Linked DNA regions of Homo sapiens: region 1 is linked to region 2. Evidence: fine-mapped expression QTL. Tissue or cell type: whole blood. Region 2 holds a variant in brackets; the other region holds the start of a gene. All regions are shown on one strand. Distances are between the middles of the regions.

What was found.
Region 1: ACSM1 starts here. The variant in region 2 is fine-mapped to the expression of ACSM1 in whole blood (TOPMed, PIP above 0.99). The same link has a PIP of 0.9 or more in esophagus muscle, sun-exposed skin and tibial artery.

Annotation. Positions count from the first base shown.
Region 1 is chr16:20,692,420-20,700,755 of GRCh38, reverse strand. ACSM1 (acyl-CoA synthetase medium chain family member 1) reads left to right here and starts at 3,076. Exons shown (of 14, transcript NM_001318890.3): 1 at 3,076-3,120. It also overlaps a transcript of ACSM3 not described here.
Region 2 is chr16:20,672,927-20,681,262 of GRCh38, reverse strand. The region is part of intron 4 of ACSM1 (acyl-CoA synthetase medium chain family member 1); the gene reads left to right. It also overlaps a transcript of ACSM3 not described here. Among named protein-coding and RNA genes, the nearest start is that of ACSM1, 21 kb to the left of the region's middle. The variant A/G (reference allele first, on the strand shown) is at 5,042.

The sequences.
Region 1 (8,336 bases), 19 kb before region 2:
AGTTACTTAATAGGATCATGTCTCTTTCCTCCTAAAATCTTCACGAGACTTCCATGCACCCACCCATTGCACTTAGAATAGAATCCAAACTCCTTATTATGTCCATAAAGATCCTTAATGGCATGTCTCCTGCTTGTGTCTCTGACCTCACACTTTATCATACTTCTCACTCAGTAATCTGCCATCCCAGTCCCCCACCTATGCCTTGAAAATGTCAGCCTCAGGCTTTGCACTTGCTGTGGCTTTTGCCTGGAGTTCTTTTTCCCTAGCTGGCTGCTTCTCCTCCTTCAGGTCTCAAAATGTCACCTCTTAAGGGAGAACATCCTTAGCCACCTCCCCACACTCTCTCCATCATATTGCCCTGTTCTGTTTTCTTTTTGGCAGTATCACCATTTGAAATCCTCTTGCTTATTTAATTGACTTTTTGCTTATTGGCTTTTGCCTTTCTATCATAGGCATGTAAACCTCTTGAGAGCACCAACCTTGTCTTACATGTTTAAAGCACGCCTAAATGTTCCTTAAATATCCACTGAATGAATGAATGTATCATAGGTTTTCTATAATAAGCAGACGATAGCAAGTTCAAAAAGCTGAGGTTGGTAGGATATTTAGCTACATGAAGTCACTCAGAGAACAAGGCTGATAGAGACTTTGCCATTTTACGATGTCACTATCTCCATATATGGTTTCCAGGAGCATTGAATCAGGGGAAGAGAGTACAGAAAACTCATACCTGCTCTTAAATAAATGCCCTAGGCCAGAAGTGACTTGTAACACTTCCACATGGAGTTTATTGTTCAGAACTAGAGTTTAATGGCCTCACTTTAGCTTTAAGAGAGGTTGGGAAATGAAAGAGGAGCACACATAGAATGTTTGGAGAGTTTTCCTTTGTCCGCTGTATACCTCTTGTTAAAGATGAGAAAATTGAGGAAAAGAGGGATAAGAAATCTGCTCAATGTCACAGAGCTGGTAACTGGTAAAAGCTAGACTCAAGCCCAGGCTGCCTGGTGCCAGAGCCTGTCTTCTTGTCCATGCCTTCATGTTGCAGTTCCACAGGGGAGAACTACTCAGATGCAGAGAGTGTGTCAAGGGCTTTTCCCCCGTCTCCATTCTTTTCCGAAAAGTGGCTGCTCCTTCTCTTTAGTAACAGAGGTTTTTTGGTTAGTTGTTTTGTTTGTTCGTTTCTTTGTTTTTTGGTACTTTGATGCTTTGGGTGTTTAAGGTTTAGCTTACCATGGCCAGTCAACTAGCCCTGCCTTCTCACCTCTCCAGTGACTGGCCACAGAAAGCTAAATATTAAAAACCCAAACTATCCTAGCTTGCCACACGGTCCTGTCAGGAATGTCCTGGGTGTCTCCAGAAATCTTTAGCCATGACTTTGATCAGAAATAATTTCTTCCCAGCTTCAATGAAAATACTGGAGATCCCTCATTCTCTAACAATGCCCCAAAAATGGCTCCAGTAGAAAAGTCATAGTACAAGCCGCTACCTATGACTACCTTGGTTTATCCAATGCAATATCACTATCAACCCTCCATCTAAATGCCTGGTCCAGGTGCTTTACAGGCTTGGTGTCACATAATCCTTTCAATGATCCCATGCAACAAATCTTATTAACAAATCCTGCTTCATTTTACAAATGTCAAGACCAAGCTTTGAAAGGAAAATGGTTCACCCAAGAGCTTTCTTGTGAGTGCCTGAGGTTGGACTTAATTAAGCTCAAGACTTTGGGATTCCAAAGACCCTGCATTTTACCAGGATACCAAATTGTTCCTCTGAGAATCCCAAGTGAATAAAAAGAGCCAACATCGACTATGCCCAGCACCGTGTGCTACATGCTTTTTATAAATTATTTCATCTAGTTCTAACAAACAAATGAAGAAGCAAAGAAAACACCCTGGGAGGTAGGTATTGTTGTTATCATTCCTATTTTACAAATAAGGTAGGTGTTGGGTGCTGTGGCTCATGCCTGTAATCCCAGCACTTTAGGAGGCTGAGGCGGGCAGATCACCTGAGGTCAAGAGCTCAAGACCACCCTGGCCAACATGATGAAACCCTGTCTCTATTAAAAATACAAAAATTAACTGGGTGTGGTGGCGGGCACCTATAATCCCAGCTACTTGGGAGGCTGAGGCAAGAGACTCAATTAAACCTGGGAGGCGGAGGTTGCAGTGAGCCAAGACCATGCCATTGCATTCCAGCCTGGGTGACAGCATGAGATTCTGTCTCAAAAGCAACCGAAAACCAATTAAGGGAGGTGAGGCCCAGAGCAAGAAGGTCCACAAAGATGACATGGAGGTTAAGTGGCAGACCTAAGGCTCAAACTCAGACCTTTCTGCCTCCAGACCTCCAGAGCCCAGGCTCTTATCCATTAGGCTACACTGACTCTCAGCTGTCATTTAAGGGAGACTATGGTGATGTAGGGCTGGGAAGGGGGAGCAGGTTAGCCACAGAGAACTAGTGAAAATGCACCATTGGATCTAGTTCATTCACACCCCTAGCCATGCCACCGGAATTGGAGGTGACTTCGTATACGTGGTTTGTTTTTCTTTTTTTTTTTTTTTTTGAGACAGAGTCTCTGTCTCCCAGGCTGGAGTGCAGTGGCATGATCTCGGCTCACTGCAAGCTCCGCCTCCCGTGTTCACGCCATTCTCCTGCCTCAGCCTCCCGAGTAGCTGGGACTACAGGCGCCCACCACCACACCCGGCTAATTTTTTGTATTTTTAGTAGAGACGGGGTTTCACCGTGTTAGCCAGGATGGTCTCCATCTCCTGACCTCGTGATCCGCCCGCCTCGGCCTCCCAATGTGCTGGGATTACAGGCGCGAGCCACTGCGCCCGGCCCACATGGTTTGTTTTCTAAGTGATTATCTCTCCGTGGAGGCCTGTAATTGTTTCTGTCCTATTTTACCTGAGCATCTCCTCCCCCTACTGAATTACCCAATTCCTAACAAGTTCTCTGTTCAAGGTCCCCCTTCGCTGTGGCCAGAAGCCAAGTTCTGCTGGGTGCACAATCCTGCGGATCACCTGATCAGAGAGAACTGAACCTACAAAAGAGAGCTCAACCTCCTTTTCCATACCTACCAGGGACCTAGTTCAGCTACGTCCTAAACAGTACCAGGTAAGACAGAGGTGAAGGTCAGCTTCTATCTGTGTGTGTGTGTGTGTGTGTGTGTGTGTGTGTGTGTGTGTGTGTGTGTAATCCAATTTTAAGTTCTGGCAATGCTACTTTTAAGTTGAGTGACCTTGGGCAAGTCACTTAACTTCTTGGCACTTCATTTTAGAGGCAAAATGACAATGGTGATATTGGGTGAGAGGAATAAATAGGAACGTACATGTAATATGTTTAGCACAGTGGCTGGCATGTAAATGGGGACTGGTTTAGTGTCAGGCAGCTCTGAATGTGGTGAGCCGTGGGAGACAGGCACAAAGTCAGAGATGAATGTTTGAAGGAAATCTTTTCTATCTATGCAGAAGTTGGCTCACTTTCTATAAAGTGAATGCCTTCTAAAAAAAATTATCCAAGCATAGTAATACATGCCTGTGGTCCCAGGTACTTGAAAGGCTGAGGCAGGAGGATGACTGTAGCCCAGGAGATTGAGGCTGCAGTGAGCTATGATCACACCACTGCACTCCAGTCCAGGTGACAGTTTCAAAAAAAATGGTTAACATCTAATGGGGAGGGGGTTGGCTTCAGAATTTGCTGGGAGTTAAAAGGTACCTCAACATTTATTGAGTCCTTACCGTGCACTTCATTCAGTGCCAGCAAGTAAATTATCACACTAATCCTTATGGGGAGCTGGGAAGAAGGTATTACTACTGTGCGCTTAAGTTCAGAGACATGAACAGCACCAAAGACCCAGCTGCTAGACAACAGAGACAAACATCTAGCCCTGGCTCTGTAACTCTGGGATACCCTATAACACAGTAAGTATGTTGCTTCATTAAATAGCTTTATCAGTCCCAAGTCCTGTGAAGTCAAAGCTTAGTTGCAGGAGCTGTTCAAGGCACTATGTATCTGGGAATACAGTGGGGAGCCCAGCTGCCTCTCAAAGCTACCATGTCAAATTGCTTTCAGAATGCACTTTAAGCAGTTCAGAAAATTGTTCTTTAAAATGATTTCATAGGATGTGCTTTAATGATATGCTCTAACAGGGTAGGAACTCTTTCAGTTTAATTAATCTCCAATAGTATCTAAAACTGTACATGGTACATCTATAGTAAATACTTGAGAAAGAAAAAATACATTTTTCTATAACTCAGATAATTTGTGGGCACACTGGCTTTTCTCTTTCTGACTTTCATCACTCAGTTTTCTGAATTATGACAAAGAAGGGAAGAATCTAACTTTTTGTTGAGCACTTACTATGTCCAGCACGGTGAGAAATAGACAAACTAAGCTTTGTGAAGTCAAATCTGAAGACAGATGTGGATGGAAATAGATATCGAAACAGAGACAGAGACGGAGATAGAGATAGAGACAGAGATAGTGATAGAGATAGAGACATGCATCACTTAACAACCAAGATACGTCTGAGAAATGCATTGTTAGGTGATTTTGTTATTATGGGAACTCATAGAGTGTACTTACACAAACCCACAAAGCATAGTCTTCTACACATATAGGCGATATGCTATAGCCCATTGCTTCTAGGCTACAAACCTATGTAGCTTGTTGCTGTATTAAATACTGTAGGCAGTCATGACACGATGGTAAGTACTTGTGTATTGAAACATAGAAAAGGTACAGTAGAAATATGTCATTATAATTGTATGGGCCACTCTGTATATGTGATCCATCACTGACAATGACATCATATTGTGGCACATGACTACAGTGTACATGTGTTATTGTTATAGACATTAATATTAATGTATAGATATACACAGATAGTGATATAGGTATAAATGTAAATATTGGTATATAGATACAGAAATAGATTTAGAAATGAAGCTTAACATACATACAGAGATAGAGATAGACGCAGACATAGACATATAGATATCTGATTTTCAGTCCTCAACACTTGGAGATCAGGTTCTTATATATCTAGATAGATAGATAGATAGATAGATGATAGATAGATAGAAAATAGGTAATAGGTAGATAGATAGACGATAGATACATAATAGATAGGTAATAGATAGATAAATAGATGATAGATAGATAATAGATAGGTAATAGATAGATAGATAGATAGACAGATAATCAGTGAAAAAGCTGGACATATACCAGTCCTATGGTGTCTATGTTCAGGTATTCATCCCCATTCCTTCTCTTTAGACCTTAACTCCAAAAGTTAAGGAAATTTTTTTCCTCTGGCTTAACTACTCTATAAGAGCTTCCCTATAAAGTGTGTTAACTAGCAACAGCTCTTATTTCTAAAATACTTGTCCGTGCTGAATGCTTTTTGCAGGATATCGTGCATTTATCACCATGGCTTCAGGCAATAGGTGCTGCCAATATGCCTATGTTTTTATAGGGAGGTTAAATAAATTGCCCCAAGTTATGTGGGTGGGAAATGAAAGTGCTGGAATTTGAGCCCGTGTTGTTTGATCTCTAGGGCCATGCTGTTTCAGCTACCACAGTTCTCCACAGCTGGGCACTGTGTTTGGCCCTCTCATGTGACGAAGATTAAATTAGAATCACAAACACATTTGTGAGATGATGCCAAAGTCATTTCTTCTTTATTTGATCAAGAGGAGTACATTGGTTTGCTAGGGCTGCCATGAAAATTACTAATGACTGAGTGGTTTAAACAACAGAAATTGATTTTCTCAAAGTTCTGAAGGCTGGAGGTCCAAGATCAGGGTGGTTTTCTCTGAGGTCTTTTTCCTTGGCTATCTTCATATTCACATGGTCTCCCTCTGTGTGTGTCTGTGTCCTAATCTCCTCTTTTTATAAGGACACCAGTCATATTGGATTAGGGCCCACCCTAATAACTCATTTTAACTTAATTACATTTTTAAAGACCCAATCTCCAAATACAGTGGTGTTCTGAAATATTGGGGTTCGTACTTCACCACATACATTCATGGGGGACACAGTTCAAACCATGATAACTGGTTAATGGATTCCCTCACTATATCTCTCCCTTTTGTTTTGGTCTTTAGTCACTTAGTAAGGGGTTGTTTGGACTGTCTTCAGGAAAAATGGTGAGTTTGTATTTTAAGGAAGACCCTGAGGTCATATAGACACCTGCATAGAAAAATTGCAACTGAGTTTGATATTCTCACCCAAACTAAGCTCATGCCTGTGGAAGGAGGTGTGTGTTGGAAAATGTAACAGAGGTGATGGGCTTCTAGAACCAACTTGGCTACAATATTGTTTGAAATGTTTGTTCCTTGGTGCCGTAAAGAAATAGGACTTGAATGTAAATTTAATTTACTCAGCAAGGCCATTTTTACTTCCTGCAGAAATGGTACACTTGCCAGCAGTTTTGCCAGGAGAGTACATAGAACAAAGGAGACAGGGTCATTTATAACCTGACGCATCCACCCTACTGCTGTGTCCGGTTTCCACTGGCTGGAACGGGACCTCACATTCTGTATTTGTCCCGATTGGCTAGCAACTTAGAACTTTTTTAAAGAGGCAAAGGTAGAGGAGAACAAAGGAAAGAGGAAGTAACTCGTGAAATGCTGAGAAAGATTAAAACACTTTTAAATAAGCAAGAGGAACAGGCTATGGCCTAATGCTTGCTTGGACCAGTATAAGAATGCCAGGGCAAATATTTAGGCTAAATTGTGGGAGCTAAGAACATAAAGTACATTGATTTCTTTATTACGGTTAGCAGATATTTAAGAATCTTAGCACAGGACTTTGAATAAATTTTGCTTTTAAGAGAAGTTACTATTTATTCCTAATTAGATGGGGAGGAAAGTCTTTGAAGAGGAACCTCTATTTTACTTTTTACAATATTAAAATTGCATCATGACTTTGGGGAAATTCCTGCCTCTCCTGGGATGTTGGCCTAGGTTAGAGATTTTAAGCTCAAATATACACAGGGGCTGGACAGCTACAATAAGTGGAGAAGCAGGCAGGAGGGACAAAATAAAGTGGTAGGAACTGCATCAAACTGGAGAACATCTCATTTAAATAAAGCAGACAATTCTCAGCTCCAGCCACTTGACAACAAGTTGAAATAAAGACCCAGCATCACTGGCCATTACTAGTTCTATTGTCTATTATATGGGTCTGTTGTCAGCCGGTATTTTATCATTGTTGAAAGTGAGCAAGAGGGAACTTAAATGTTCATGATGATAAAGTGCTTCAATCTCAAAGCTGTTTGAGAAATAGCTTTCTTCAGTCAACATTTACATGGAAAGAAAGGATCCAGCTTAAGCCATTTTTTCCAATCAAACTTCAAGAAGGATCCTAATAAAGGAGGTTCCTGCTGTCATGTTGGCAGCATATTTCAGGATCTGAAGGGGCAATGAGGTTTAATTTTATGTGTCAACTCTGATGCATTGGTATCAGCTGTCCTGAATGCTACTCTAGGGAAGAACTCAATGCCACATCCCAGTCCATTGGAAAGTGCAGTGACATTAGCAGTGAGGACTAAGATCTGAATTTTTTTTTTTTTTTTTGAGACGGAATTTTGCTCTGTTGCCCAGGCTTCAGTGCAGTGGCATGATCTCGGCTCACTGCAACCTCCGACTCCCAGGTTCAAGTGATTCTCCTGCCTCAGCCTCACCAGTAGCTGGGACTACAGGCAGGCACTTCCATGCCTGGCTAATTTTTCAAATTTTTAGTAGAGACAGGGTTTCATCATGTTAGCCAGGATGGTCTCAAACTCCTGACCTCATGATCCACCTGCCTCAGCCTCCCAAAGGGCTGGGATTATAGGCATGAGCCACTGTGCCTGGCCTAAGCTCTAATTTTTTATCTTGCTGAAATTCCTATCTAAGGGGCTTAGGGAGTTATGCCCTACAAACCATAAATTCTCATCAGATGGGTTTTATTTAACCCTGTATATCAAGACTTACTTTCCAATCAGACTCTGGCATAACAAGAAGAAAATCAAAATGTTTTACCCAAAAATATATTTCCTTGCCATACCTTGAAATTGCCCTGCAAAGTCTCTTGTAGGAAAAATCCACATTCTATAAAGAACCCCATTTCCTCTTTGTTTTCTTTCCTTCCTTCCCAGATCCAGGAGACAATCAACTAAGAGCCACATACCCTTTTAGGTCTAAGACATATTTTACAACCTGCTCTCTCTCTGACGTCTGGTGTCTGAGAGATACCGGTGCACAATAAAACTTGGTCTCCACAAAGCTTTACCTTAACCTGAACATTCCTTGCCATTAATCCCAGGTCTTCAAATAAACTCACCC
Region 2 (8,336 bases):
TCTATTTCAATATATAGCATTTCTCATTTGTGTTGCTTGTATTGCCAATAAATCTAGTGCCCTTGATGTTTCATTGGTTATAATTTCAAAGACTGCCTGCAACCTTATGATGCAGTTGAGCATATAGATTGGGGTGTGGTAACCCCATGACCCATCTTGCACCCAGGTAGCTGGCCAATAATATTTAATTATTCTTTCAGGAGGCCATTCATTATCTTTCCAGTCTCCTATGTCCACATCCTTTTTGACATTTGTGTCTATTTTTGTGATTATGCTCTTCTAGTTCTTCTTTTATTTTCATCATCAACTGGATACCATAAGAGTTCCCCTTGCTTTAGAGGAATTAGAAAGAAGAATGGCTTGATTGTTACTACACACATGCTCCTGTCCATTTAGCTGGCAGTTGCCAATATGCCCATGCTCCACAGATCCAATATAGGCCAGAGGGTGCTTTCGAAGCATTTGGAACCTCTAGTTGATGCCAAGTGTGGCTTAGGGTAGAGAATGGAGATAAAGGATTTGGATCTGGTAAGTAGGAGTAATTCTGGGTGCTTCTCCATAGAGTTTTGTTTTTAGTCTCATCATAATACTGTTGCCCTAGGCAGGTTATTTCTCCTACTGCCTCTGTGAAAGCCTTTCCCCAACGGGCGATACGGTACTTTCCAATTATGGAGGTTTTTAACAACCAAACACTGGCTGAGGCTGTTGGTTCACTGGCAGGGTTAAGCGAAGTGAAGTTATCTTGTGGCATTAATTCCTTTGCCTCCCATGGCCACTGGTTCCCCATATTAGTTCCTCCACGTACATAGCATGAGGAAATTCCTAAGCTGCCAGCTATGTTTTCAGCTAGTTGAGCAAATAAGTTTTTGGTTGGTGGGGGAAGCTCAGGCACTGGCTTATCCAAATGCTTATAGAATGATTATGGACCCAGAATTGCGGGGTTGGATGCATTTGAGTCCTTTTAGTCTTTTTGACAATTAGTAGTGGAACTCCAAGGCCTGCTCCTAGTCTATCAAGTCGTTATAGTGCTGTCTGTCCTGTAGACCAGAAAGGTATCTCTGGCTTTAAGATAGTAAAATGTAAAGGATTGCATGTTCTTGTCTTACAGTTTGGTTTGGTTAACATACTACTTAGCAGAGCACTCCTTCCTGAATATAAATATTGGAGTTGTGTTAGTGTGGACCACTGAATGTTACAGTCTGGGCATCCGATTTGTGGTTCTTTGTACAGATGCTTAGGGCTGCTCCTGCTAAGCCTCTCTTGTGTTACACCATTGCAGACTGCTTCTGTTTTTTTTTAGGATTGTGAACATATGCAGCATAGCAGGCATCAAAGTACAAGGAAATAGGCCCTTTACAGGAGGGAGGGGCTTCTTTTGTTCGAGCTATAACTCTCCTTCTTTTTCTCCCTCTGATTTAATATGTATTTCAAACCAGAATTCATAGGGTAAGAGCTTAGGGTCATAACATACATATAGCTGATTATTTCCTGGGTCACAGACCGAATAGGTGGTCTGGTTGTATGTGCAGGTTCCTAACTTGGTTCCTGTACTGTAGGTATGGTACAGTAGAGTTTTAACTATGGTATTCCTTACCCAGGTAGTATGTACACAGTGTGGGCATCCTTCTAGAGATTTCTCCCCTTCTAGTATAGGCAGAAATGGTAACAACATTAGTGTATGTAATAGAAACATGCTTACACTACACATAGGAATGGCAAACCTTCCTCTGGGCATGGACATTTGCAGCATTTGCAGTAATAATGTAACAACAGAACAATTATAACTAGGCTTATAAATTTTATCTACATTTACTTATCTAGAGATGGTCCTCTTAGCTTCGGCTGTGTGTAGACTAGTCAGCTTCCAGGATGTGACTAGAGCAGAGCTTGCAAGATCTTCAAGCTTCAGCCATGTGTAGACTGACCAGCCTCCAGTGTGGTCAGAGCAGGGCAGTTGTCCTTCTTACTGGTGGTTGGGATTCGCCGTAGGTCTATTCGGGTGGGGCAATCAGGGTCTTGTTGGTTAATCCACTGGTCATAGTCGGGAGTCACTGCTGCTGCTAGTTTCAGCCAGCTATGGTGAATCCAAGGTGTGACACCTGCAACTTTAACAGCAGTAGAAGTAGACATGATTACAATATGAGGCCTATCCTGTATGGGTCCTAGAGTGGTTGGATTCCATTTTTTAACTTAAAGAAAATCCTTAGGTTTGAAAGGGTGTACTGGGTCTGTTAGACTTATAGGCATTTTTCTATACCTAGCCATGCATTTTTGCATGGCCATACTTAAAGTCTGCATTTGCCTTCTTAAAGTTACTTCTTCTAGTCTACAGATGATGGGGGGTGGCCGGCTGAACAAAATCTCAGAGGGGGAATACCCAGTTTGCTTGGTGGAGGTGCACCTGACTTGGAGGAGGACCATGGGCAAGACCTGATCCTACCTTTGATGAGTTTCTTGACACAATTTCTTCAGCAGTTGTTTTAGTGTCTGGTTCATGCTCTTCGCTTTACCTGAGCTCTGCAGTCTGTAGGCTATATGTTATTTCCATTTTATTTTTAATAGTCAAGTTAAGTCCTGAACTATTTCAGCCACAAATGTTGGTCCATTGTGAGATCTTAGAGTTAGAGGCAGTCCAAATCTGGGAATAATGTCTTTTAACAACACTTTGGTCACCTCTAGTTCCTTCTCTGTCCCGGTGAGGAAGGCCTTGACTTATCCTGAAAAGGTGAACACCAACATGTACTGATAGCCCCCATCACAGGGTAATTCGGTGAAGTTCATAAGCAGTTTTTCACATGGCATGGCTTCTGTTTCCTGAACTCCTGGGGGTGGAGTAAGCCCTTGTCATGGATTGTTCTGAACACAAGTTAAATATTGTTCATTTACAAATGGCTTGAGTAATAGCAGTGAGCCATGGCACATAGAAATGATGCCTTAATAATGTCTTTAGTGCTGTTTTTTTGTGTGTTTTTTTTTCAGGTCAGTTCCTTGGTGGAACTGTTTTACAAATCTGGGGGCCACCGTTTCAGGGATGGCTAGCCTCCCACTGGAAAATTTTTACTATCCTTCTTCAATGTAGTTGATATTTTTCTGGGCAAAACAAGCCCTTTCATTTGGAGTGTAGCTTGGGATCTACAGAAGGGGAATCTCTGGGAGGAGAGGCATAGCTAAGGCTTCTTCTTTAGAAGGTGGGGTTGTCCTGCTTTGCCTCTTTGTCTCATTTATTTATTTATTTATTTATTTATTTATTTTAGCCTTTAGTATTCTTCCTTTATGGTGCCCCTTGCAGTGCATCTCTGCCACATCTTTTAAGGCCTATACAGCATTTAAGAGCTGTAGAATTTCTTCCTTGTACTTTATTTCTTTACTTTCAGCAGTTAAAAGCCTTTTTTTTCTTTGTAAATAGCCTCATGAACATGGAAAGTGTCAGAAGCATATTTGGAATCTGTGTAAATATTTGTCTTTTGGTCTTTTGCTAGCCAGAGAGCTCTTGTCAGAGCTATTAGCTCTGCTTTCTAAGCAGAAGTTTCTGTAGGCAAAGACTGCACCTCTACTACTGAGTCCAAAGTCACCACTGCATACCCAGCTCAGCAGATTCCCTTTCGTATGAAACTGCTTCCATCAGTAAAATATTCTATGTCTGGCTCCCCAAGGGGCCTATCTGTCAAATCTCTCTGGCTTGAGAACACTTCATCTATCACATTTACACAGCAATGAAGGGGGTCTCCTGGTACTGACTTGATGAGGAGCAAGGTAGCCGGGTTTAGGGTATTCACAGTCTCTAAAGTTAGTTTGTTAGCTTATTGAGCCAGTAGGGCAGTGGCAGCTATTGCTTTAAAACAAGGAGGCCAGTGAAGTGCCACAGAATCTAATTGCCTGGATAAGTATGTCACTGGGTGATGCCATGACCTTATGGCTTGAGTTAGAACCTTCATGGCCTCCCTTTCACTTATGGGCATACAAGAAGATAAGCTTAGTTAGTTAGATCTGGCAGTCCTAAAGCTGGGGCCTGAGTCAAGGCTTTTTTTTTTTTTTTAATTTCTTTAAAAGTCTTCTCCTGGTTAGCCTCCTAGAGGAGGGGCTCTTTCTTTCCTTCTCTTTGTGGCTTAGCCATAAGCTAGAAATTTGGGATCTAAATGCAGCAGAACCTTGCTGCCCTTAGGAACTCTCTTATTTGACACCAGGTGGTTGGAGTAGGAAGTGCACAAACAGATTGCTTTTGTTTACTACTAAGCCATCTTTCCTCTTGGCTTATATAAAGGCTTAAATACTGGAGACTTTTAGAGCAGATTTGAGCTTTTTTCTGACACTTTATGTCCTGCCTTTCACAGCAGGTGCAGGGAGTCTTGGGTTTCTCCTGGGTGCAGTAGCCCTTGGCTGGAGGGTTTTTTTTTATACCATGGCCTTGACCATTCTCCTTATTTTATTTATTTATTTTTTGGGGCATTTATTCTTCTAGTGTCATTTCCTTTTGCACCGTGCACATTAATCTCTCTCTAGCCTTGGCCAGCTTTCAAACTCCTGTCCAAACCAGCCTTTTCCATGACTGTGTTCACGCCCACGACCATGCCTCCTTGCAAAGCCAGCTTCTCTTCCCATAAGGGCTGCTGCTAGTAAATTAGCCTTTGTTAAGCCTCTGATCAGCTTTCTTCTCTGCCTCCTGAACTCAGTTAATGTACACCTTGTAACCACTTTAATAAGCTGAGTTGCATTCACACCTACGGAGCTTCTAACTTCTGCAATTTGTGCCTGATATCTCCTTGGGCCTGCCTTACAAATGCTGTGTCCACCATGCACTGATTTTCAGCAGCCTTAGGGTTAAACAGAGTGTACAACCAAAATGCCTCAAAAAGTCTTTCTTAAAACTGGCTGGTGCTTTTATCTGCACCCTGGAGCACCTCTGAGATTTTTTATATTGGTTGCCTTTTTCTTTTACCAGCCTTTAGCCTTTGCAGAAGGGCTTCTTGGCACTTTTGTAGGTGCTGAAGCTGGACTGCATCATCTGGGTCCTAGTGGGTGTCCTCTTGTCCTCTTAAGAGGC[A/G]TAAGCATAACTTGGGCGTGACCAGACCTGAGACACCCTCCCTGACTTTTCCAGCCTTTCACTTTAACTTCCTGGAGCTCTAATTTCTCCTTCTCAGGTGAGACTGGGAGCCTGTATCTCTTTGAACTTAATTCCTTAGGGGCAGTTAGCCTTGGTAAAGGGAGGTAGATTGGAATGTAGGGAGGAGGGGTCTCTATTCCCTCCTGTGGTTCTTGCAAAACTGGTTTTCTCTTTCCTGAGACTTTTCTTTTGTCTCCGTAGTTGCCAGGGCAGCTGATTTTTACTTTTACTTTTGGCTTTCACTTTTCACTTTTGGTGCTACAAGCCTCTGTGACTTTACCTTTAACTCCGTAGCCGCCAGCGCAGCTGGTTTCTCTGGGTGTGAGCTGTGAACGTTCTACAATAAACTGCTAGGCAGGGCTGCATTCATTTAGCCATGAATCAATATAAAGACTAGGTCTGAATGCCCTGGCTGTCTTCCAGGGCTAGTCACTACCTTAAAACACACAGCCAATTTACCTATAGTGCCATTGGTCAGCCATCCATCACTAAAAGAGGGCTATTCTAATTCACAGTATGTCCTTAACTTTTGAACATCCAGTTTCATCCCATAATCAGCTCTAAATCCTTTTTAAAAATTCTTTATCATGCACTCCAAAAGGAGTTGGTTTCCATGCTTTTCCTCCCATTTCCTCCCTTGAGGTGCACTTTCACTCTAAGGTCCACCAGACTGGGTCCTATTACAGGAGTTTCAGACGCTGCTTAGCCAGGAACGTGCCTTTCCCTGCCACAGACTGCTGCAGCTGTGAAGCTCAACCTATCAGCCATATGCAACATCCTAGGACTGATTTCCCCCACACTCGCCTGGGAGCACACAGCCTGCGCTAAGGGATCTGTGCCTCCCCACATTACTCCCCGCATTGGCCTCTCCTGAGACCGTCTCTTTCACACACTTTCACACACCTCCCTTGCCTCAGGACTCCTCATCGGACAAAACAACCCTCTCTCGTGTCCCGGGTGAGCCTAGTTAGATTCCCACATTCACACACATACACACACCACTTCTACCCCAGGACTCTTCATCAGAGGAAACGAACCTCTCTGGTGTCCTGGGTAGGTCCGCACACACCCACACACTCCCAGTTGGGGTGGCAAGCCACTCTTACCATTCTGCCAGCAAACTCTTCCTTGCTGCACTTGCCGCTGTATCGGCCCATTTTCTCCACCAGTGAACCACTTTCACTTTGTTAGGGGGACACGAGGTTCATCCAAATTGGCGGGCCACTCCTGCCACCCCCAGCCACTCTGGGTTGGATGAGTGGTTGGTCCCTGGGAGGTGATCAAGCTCACCTTCATCCCTATGGGATGGGCTTTCCTACCTTGGGCCCTTTCTCCTTACCGCGGTTCCTGAAGTGCTGGTGTCATCCTGCAGCCCCATCTCAGGTTCAGTTGCACTGCTGGGCAGGATGCGGGGAGAGCCAGTCTCCATCCGGGTGAAACTCCCCCATGGCATGCCTTGGATGCCAGGTCTTCCACAGCCCCAGGGCCCTAGTCCCATGGGCAAAGGAGACAGTAAATCTGTTATCTCCAATCCCCATATGGGCCACCAGAAATGTTTGGGGATGATTTAGGAATCAGAGAGACCGATGGGGTTGAGGAGGATATATGTATTATTTAGGTGCACCAGCCAACCCAGTCAGATTAATATCCAAAGGACTGAGCCCAGAACAAAGAGTCAGGTTACCTTTTAAGCATTTTGGGGGTGGAGAGGGGGGAGGGAGAGATCTGTTCAGGGGGAAGCATATTACAGAAGTGAGAAACAAAGACAGTTATTCAATTGAGACATGCATTACATCATTTCTTACTTTTCAAGGAAAAACATGTTTTGCAACTTGGGTTTATCTGTCTAGTGACCTTGCAGCTGCACAGCTAGAGAAACAGGGTCTTCACAATGCCTGGGAAAGGGAGAGATAAGGCTCACTAGCCACAGACAGAGAAACAGGCAGTTAATTTTTAAAGGACTCCACCTCTTTCTCTTCCTCTGGGGCAACTGGGTTTTCTTACATACAACTGAGTTTTTGCTTACACATTCTTTAATTTCTTTTAATTCCTGTTCCACAGGTAGAAGAATGCCATTCACTCCCAAGTGGTGAGAGACAAGCAGCCAGTGGTAGGAAGGTCATCAAGTCAGTTGTCAGAAACCTCACTTATGTCACTGTTTTGCTATGTGACCCTGACCTAGTTCCTTGCCCTCTCTTGATCTCAGTTGCTTTATCTGTAAAATTTCACATTTTTCAGCAAGTCAACCTTCCATGTTCCTCTCATTAAAATATACTCACCCCTGGGACTGTGCAAAGGAGATTTGTAAAGTCAGGGGGTTATTGTGTTACATATTCCTTGTAGGTGGGAAACCTAAAGTCTTATTTTTCTATTAAAAATATATGAAGTAGTTGAATGAAAGGTTAAAATGAATTTTTAAGGTAAAACTTAAGACCCCAAGAAAAATGGAATTGCCAACTATGGCTTATAGGTAGCTTTGGGAGCAAACTCTTTCCATCTCCCAGGGACTGGGTGCCTTCAGAGACACCTGGGGGCAAAGTGAAGGAAGGCTGGAGATAAGAAAGGCCCCTTCTGCCTCCAAAACTCTGATTCTGTAAGCCTTCAGTCATGTCTCACATTATACACACAAACCATGCTGGGTTTGTTTTCTTGGAGTAATACTTGAGTTTTTAAAGCTCTTTATTTCAACCCCAAAAGGCAAACATTACAGCAAAGTCACATCTTATGCTGTAGTCTAATGTCAGAGAATTTAATTAAAACAGAGTACTCTTGAAAAATCCCTCGAATTTCCCAAAGTCAGTATGATACCATTTCACAGCAAGACCAGCAGACCTAGTGTTTCCTCTCGTGTTGGGATTATTTGCAGTTGCTTTGAACACCATAGAAGCCTTGCATTTACAATTGTAGTAGGCCCAAGGCCCTCTCAGTCCAGGGGAAGCTCCTGAGAAACAAGAGAGACTGAGGGAACCACAGATCTTATCTGCCATCTCAAGCTCATGCTAGGGCAGAGGTACATTGATCGCAGTAATTTTATATATAATATATATATAATATGCAAATTTATATATAAGTATAATTTATATATAAGTATATATATCATATAATTATATGTATATATGACATGTAAGTGTATATAATATATGACATATAAGTATATATTTTATATATTTATGTATAATTTTATATATAAATTTTATATATGAGATATAATATATAAATGTTTTTATATATTTAT